2 separate regions of the Homo sapiens genome follow, and region 2 is reported to be linked to region 1. The links are microRNA targets in miRTarBase. Many come from high-throughput screens and were not tested one by one. Region 1 holds a microRNA gene; the other region holds the end of a gene's coding sequence.

Region 1 (3,414 bases):
CAGCTGATCACTGGAGGACTTTGGGATGGTATAGACAGCATGCCCCTTCCCTTGAACTTGGATGCCTCCACATCTAGGAAGCCCTCCAAGGAAAGAGATCGGAGTGAAAATCAGTCCAACTCAGCCACATTTGGCATACATGTCGCAAACGCCTCGCAGATGCTCTCTTCAGAGTCTAACAGAGTGCAGCTGGCCCCAGTTTACTGTCTCTTTCCCAAAAAGTTGACACCTCTTCCAGGAAGTTCTCCAAGGGGGCATTAGATACTGAGGGTTAGTGGACCAGGTCACAAACGGCACAAATAAAGCGTGTGCTCTCTGGTCAACCATCTCATGTATCCAGGCACGTGCTGACACCACGCTCCTTGTCCGCAAGTTAACCCTGCTGCCAAGCCAGAGCAGTGTGCTGAGAAGAAGGCTGCCACACGTGAGTTATCGTCACACACAAGACAAACACATCACAAACCCCGCTGGGTCACACTGAGCGCAGACCTAGTGGCCCCCACCCCCGCAGTTGATGTTAGCTCCAGGAAAGCTTGCAAGGCGGGATTAGATACTGCAAAGAGGTCGACCGTGTAATGTGCGCCATAAATAAAGCGAACGCGCCACGGACCACCTCTCTCCAAGTACCAAGCAGCAGCCGTACTGACACCAGGACAGTGGCTCTTCCGCAAAGCTGATATCACCTCCTGGAAGTCTTCCAAGGCGAGATGTGATATTGAGAAGAAGTAGACCATGTGTCCTACGTCACAAATAAAGCGTACACACCATGGTCAACCGCATCTTCAAATACCAGGAAGTGACGCTGACCCCTGGCTCTCTTCCTTTCACCTGCTATCACCTCCAGAAAGCCTCACAATGCGCATCATGAACTACCAGCCACCGGCAATGTGGCAATGACCACAAACCCACATCCAATGCCACTACCACCTCCAGGATGCCCTGTAAGGGTGGGACCGGTACTGAGTTCTTGGCTGGTGGACCAAATGGCCAATGTAATAAATAAAGGACTGGGTCTGCAGCCAACCACCCGGTGACCTGCACTGCACCCTGGCTACCACTCAGGCCTGGCTCTCAAGTCGGCATGGCCTCCGGGAAGCCCCAGGGCTGGCTGATACTGAGAATGAGTGGACCATGCTACATCTGTCATTCAACAATGCATATGCTTTATGCTCTACCATCTCTCCAAGTACTGTGGAATGGCGCTGAAGCCAGATCAGTGTGTCTCCCACGAAGGTGACTTTGCCTCTCTCTGGGAAGCCCTCTATGACTGAATTTGATATTGAGAAGATGTGGACCATATTACATACGACACAGAGATAGCGCATGTTCTATGGTCAACCATCTTTTCAGGTACCTTGGAGAGGGCTGAGGTCAGAGCCGGTGTCTCTTTCCTCTCACTAGCATCACCTCCAGGAAGCCCTCTGAGGCCTGATGTAGTATTGAGAAGAGGCCACCATGCAATGTCTGCCGCAGATGCAGTGGACGCAGCACAAAGGAGCCCCTCAAGAATGGAGATGATGCTGGAACTAGTGCTATGACTGACACTCGTTCCTGCCTACAGAAAGCCCCCCGAGGTGCACGCTGTTATAGGAAGGTGGACGAAGTAACATGCGTTGTAAGTAAAACATATGAAGCATGGCCAACTTCTACTAAGTACCCCGAGGCAGTACTTGTACCAGAACTGGTGCTTTGTCTCCTAAGCTTAACATAACCTCCCTGGAGACTTTCCAGGCTGAATGGGATACTTCAAAAGAAGTAGACCATGTTACATACGTCATGGGGAAAAGACATGCAGTGTGGCTGAACCCTTTTCAGGTACCGTGAGGTCAGTGAAGAGGCCAGAACCAGTGCTCTGTCCCTGAGGCTGGCAGCTTCTTCAGCAAGTTCTCCAAGCAAGGGTTCTGGGATGGAGATAGGGAAGAAGTGGGCCATGGAGGCACTTCCTCTGTAAACATACACGATGGGGTCGAGCAGCTCTTCATGAGGATCAGTGCTGAGTCCAGAGCTGGGACATCTTCCCCCGAGATGGCTAGACTTGAGATGGAAAAAAGATAGACTGTACACGCATCAGCAAAGACAAAAACGAGTCAGTGCGTCTTCAAGTACCTGGAGTGGCATCATCTCCTGGACCCATATCTGCTCCTACATGGGCGTACTGTCCTGAAGTCATCTGAGGAGGGCTCTGAGGATGAGAGGTGACCTGTTTCACATCCCTCGTTCATGAACATTTGCGGCACCAGCCACCGTTTCTTCAATTACTCCAGAGGGATGTGCCAACGTGGGCAGTAGGACACCTTCCTGGAGGTCATCCTTGTCCTGAGGAAGTCACTGGAGGCTGTGTTTGGCACTGAGGAGAAGACCGCATCACAAGCATTGACAGAGAAAGCACACATCTAAGAGTCTACCATTCCACCAAGTGCCATGGCATGGCGGATGCCGAGACCCGTGGCTCTCCTCTAACTCCAGGCTTTCTCCAGGGAGGTTTGGATGGCTGGGCTGGATACCAAGAAGCGGTTTACCATCCCACATACATATTCAAAATGTATGTGGGACGGTAAACCATTTCTTCAAGTACCGCACGATGGTGGTGGTGGTGGCTGGAAGAAGGCTCATGTCCACGAAGTTGCCTGAGGGCGCTTCTTCTAGGCTGCATTTGACGCTGAGAAGAAGCAGGTCACGGTGTCTACTGAATAAGCGTAGCGTAGTCAACCACGTCATTGAGCACCATGGAATGGCACTGATTCCGGGAAGAATCAAGGTCTCCTCCCCAGGGATGGCGCGATTTCCCAAGGCAGAACTTGATTTAAGAGGAGCGAGATTATGCCATTTTGCATCATGCAGAAAAACACATGCCATACAGAAAATCATCTCTTCGGGTGTCATGGAGAAGTGGTGGTGGGTCCAACCGTTCCTCCCCGAAGACAGCGTTGTTTCCAGGAGCCTCGGGGATGGATTTGATACTGAGGGTTAGTGGACCGTGTTACATACGTCACAGATAAAGCGTACGCTATACGGTCTACTATCTCTCCAAGTACCACACAGAGATGCCGAGGACAAAGGCTCAGGACACATCCAGAAAGCCCTCCAAGGCCTTGAGCTGGGTGGAACCAGAAGGGAGGTTGAGCACAGCACATGCATCATGCGACAAGCACACACAGGCCAGGAGTCTCGTCTTCATGGTCGGGGGTTGACATGAATGCTCGAAGCAGTGGCTCATCCCCAAAACTGGCAACTCCTCCAGGAAGCCCTTCGAGGCCGAAAGTCCCACTGAGAAGAAGTGGACGATGATATGGATTTCATCACTCCATAAATACTGATTAAGTGCCTGCTGTGTGCCAGGCGCACTGTGCTGGGTCTGAAGGAGTGGGTAGATGGGAGGGAGGACATGGCACATGGCTAACAGAGCTGGTTAGG
Region 2 (3,414 bases), not on the chromosome of region 1:
TATTATAGGCTTTTTCTTCTAGCTGCTTTTATTTTATTTATTTATTTATTTATTTTTGAAGACAGAGTCTTGCTCTGTGGCCCAGGCTGGAGTGCAGTGGCGCGATCTCGCCTCACTGCAAGCTCCGCCTTCCAGGTTCACGCCATTCTCCCACCTCAGCTTCCCGAGTAGCCGGGACTACAGACGCCCGCCACCATGCCCGACTAATTTTTTTTTGTATTTTTGGTAGAGACAGGGTTTCACTGTGTTAGCCAGGATGGTCTCGATCTCCTGACCTCGTGATCCGCCCACCTCAGCCTCCCAAAGTGCTGGGATTACAGGCGTGAGCCACCGCGCCCGGCTCTTCTAGCTGCTGTTAAACAGCTTTTAAAACAATGTTGGGATTTTATTTGACTGTTTAAAAACAGTGAAACAGGCTGCTTAAATAAAACTTATTCTGAAAACATCTATGTGCTTTATAAATTGTTCTGTTCTTTGCTTTACTTTAAACTTCTAACTATTGTTTTTCATAGACTGCCATCAGTGAGAATTATCAGACAATGTCGGACACTACTTTCAAAGCCTTACGTCGACAGTTGCCAGTTACACGCACTAAGATTGATTGGAACAAGATCCTTAGCTACAAGATTGGCAAAGAGATGCAGAATGCATAAGATGAACATTGCATGACCGGATCATTTTAGTGTCTTTGCGTTAAAAAATCATTGCAAAAGTATTCTGAACTGTCAAGCTGCCCAGTCAGATGGGCTGTTGCCATTTAAAATCACTGTAATTAATTAGTTTGATTAGAGCACAAAGCTTAGCTAATCAACCATTATTTTTCATTTTGTTTGTTCTAAGAGGATTGAAAATCAGTTTAGTTTAAATGTCTTTCTGTTAGGCCTTTCTTTCTTACAATGAAGAGATGATTCTTCTAGTTTATGGTTAAAAGTTTTTGAAGTGTCTCAAAAATATTTTACTAACTGTAACCCTAAAATTGATGTCTTTTGGTTTATGAAATCAGTAATTTTTGATATTTCCCCAGTTCTTTTTAATGGGGTCAATAATGGACATTCTAGTTTAAGGTGGTTGATGGATTTAGCCATATATGCTGCTAAAGAAATTGTCTACCTTTTCTTCCTCACCTGTTCCATTTATGTAAAGTTGAGATTAGAGGGAAAGCATTTTCTATATCAATTGTGTTTAAACCTTTCAAGAAGGTTATTTAGCTAGCTTAGTGTTGAACTAAATTTTTTTTAAACAAGGCAAGGTCTAATGCTGTTTTGAGATTCTGAAATTAATGAAAATACTTATTTCAGAAATGCATTTAATGCTTTTTTTCTTGTGACAGTTACGCAAATCAGCTTGAATTCCATATGTCCCTGAGTTATTTTTATCATAAAGCCACAAATGTATTATAACAAGGCAAATTGTAATATATATAATCCTGAACTCATGACCATGTCTCGGTTTATTTTTTTTTTCTTGGATTGAAAAGTACTGAAATTCAATGTGACATTAAAATGCAAATTTTCCTATTTATTTGAGTAGAAAATCACTTACCAGTGAGCATATATATTTTAAAATACTTTCTTTGGATATTGTAATTCTTAACTGGTTGTAAATTAGAAAAGCTGGGATTACATATGGTGTGCGGTTACAGTCTAAATTTTTTCATCCTCCTATGCATCATAAGCATGTTTGTAATATTTTCAAAAATAGTTCTACTGATGCTACAGGAATTTCAAGCCTGTGGTGAATGTTAGTATTTACCATAGGGAGTGAAGTGGAGTTATGGTTTCATTCAATAGAGTATTGCTGATTATACTTGAGTGGAATCCTTTCCTCACGTACTCCCACAGACGTCTGGGCCTGGAAATTTTTTTTTTATTTTATTTTATTGTTTTTTTTTTTAGAAAAACACCACTTTTATTATGTACAATAAAATATTTCATTAGCTTGAATTGTATAGATTTTTAAAAATTCAATGAAAGCATGTTGTTTAATTTCTTTTTAAAATCACTGTTGGGCTTTGAAAGCATTGAGAATATAATATGAAATTATGACATTTTGTCTAAATCATCTTTTCTTTAGTTTTAAAATACAAGTTTTGGCACATTGGGATTCCTAAAGAAAATGAATTGGTAACATTAATTATCTGTTCCTTTTTAAAATATATATATTTGAAAGTTTGATGATGGTGAACTAAATACTAGATCTAATTGACAAGCTTAGTTGTATCAGTTAGGCCATCATGAGTTTCTATCCCATGAAAGTCATCAATTTCCTATCTCTGTTCTAGTCTGGAATGCATTACTGAAAATGTATGCAACTGTTTTTAAGGTGATTTGCTTGTGAGACGGAAGATTTATCAAAAATAATTTAGAACAGGCTGGGCGCGGTGGCTCACATCTGTAATCCCAGCACTTTGGGAGGCCGAGGCGGGTGGATCACGGGGTCAGGAGATTGAGACCACCCTGACTAACACAGTGAAACCCTGTCTCTACTAAAAATACAAAAAATTAGCCGGGTGTGGTGACAGGCGCTTGTAGTCCCAGCTACTCGGGAGGCTGAGGCAGGAGAATGGCGTGAACCCGGGAGGCGGAGCTCGCAGTGAGCCGAGATCGCGCCACTGCACTCCAGCCTGGGTGACAGAGCAAGACTCTGTCTCAAAAAATAATAATAATAATAATAATAATATAATTTAGAACAGTCTGAAATAATGATGGCACAGAATAGTCTTTTATAGTATAAGAATGGCATTTATTAGGCAGGGCACAGTGGCTCACACCTGTAATCCCAGCACTTTGGGAGGCCGAGGCGGGTGGATCACGAGGTCAGGAGTTCGAGACCAGCCTGACCAACATGCTGAAACCCCGTCTCTACTAAAAACAAAAAAAAATTAGCCGGGGATGGTGATGCGCGCCTGTAATCCCAACTACTCAGGAGGCTGAGACAGGAGAATCATTTGAACCCGGGAGGTGGAGGTTGCAGTGAGCAGAGATCGAGCCACTGTACTCCAGCCTGGGTGACACAGGGAGCCTCTGTCTCAAAATAATAATAATAATAAAAGAATGGCATTTATTAAAGTGAAAGAAGAATGGAAACCCAGAGTATCCTATAGCTCAGGGATGTAATTTTAGTAGGAGACATTATGGCTGCTTTGCTGAGTAGGCTGAAGTGTGGTGGCAAAGGCATAATCAGGGAGAACAGCTAGGAGACTACTGCAGTAATCTAGTTGAGAGAGCATGCTGGCTTGGACTGAGGTGGTTGCTGTAGAGGTGGTATAAAGCAGTGAGGTCTAGGTATATCCTAAAGGTAAAATCAGCAAGACCTGGGGAGAGTTTGGTCATGGAGTGTGAGATAAAGAGAACCATGTCTGGGGCTGGAGAAATTGAGGAAGATTCTTGTAGGAGCAAGTTGGTTTGGAGAAGA

The links. Region 1 holds the annotated microRNA hsa-miR-380-3p (UAUGUAAUAUGGUCCACAUCUU, at 1,285-1,306, opposite strand). A microRNA usually pairs through its seed, bases 2 to 8, with sites in the 3' UTR of a target mRNA and lowers its output. Matches are read on the target gene's strand: a 7mer-m8 pairs with bases 2 to 8, a 7mer-A1 pairs with bases 2 to 7 and ends in A, and an 8mer does both.
Region 2: miRTarBase lists CAPZA2 as a target of hsa-miR-380-3p. Seed matches in the 3' UTR shown: 8mer at 1,619-1,626.

Annotation. Positions count from the first base shown.
Region 1 is chr14:101,022,948-101,026,361 of GRCh38, reverse strand. MIR380 (microRNA 380) reads right to left here and starts at 1,345; the gene lies at 1,285-1,345. LOC124903407 (mucin-2-like) reads right to left here. Exons shown (of 5, transcript XM_047432049.1): 5 at 1-3,414. MIR411 (microRNA 411) reads right to left here and starts at 3,037; the gene lies at 2,942-3,037. It overlaps MIR299 (microRNA 299), which reads right to left and starts at 2,568; the gene lies at 2,506-2,568. It also overlaps MIR1197, MIR323A and MIR758.
Region 2 is chr7:116,917,215-116,920,628 of GRCh38, forward strand. CAPZA2 (capping actin protein of muscle Z-line subunit alpha 2) reads left to right here. Exons shown (of 10, transcript NM_006136.3): 10 at 513-3,414. The coding sequence ends at 653. Among named protein-coding and RNA genes, the nearest start is that of ST7, 35 kb to the right of the region's middle. RefSeq lists a silencer at 1,016-1,730.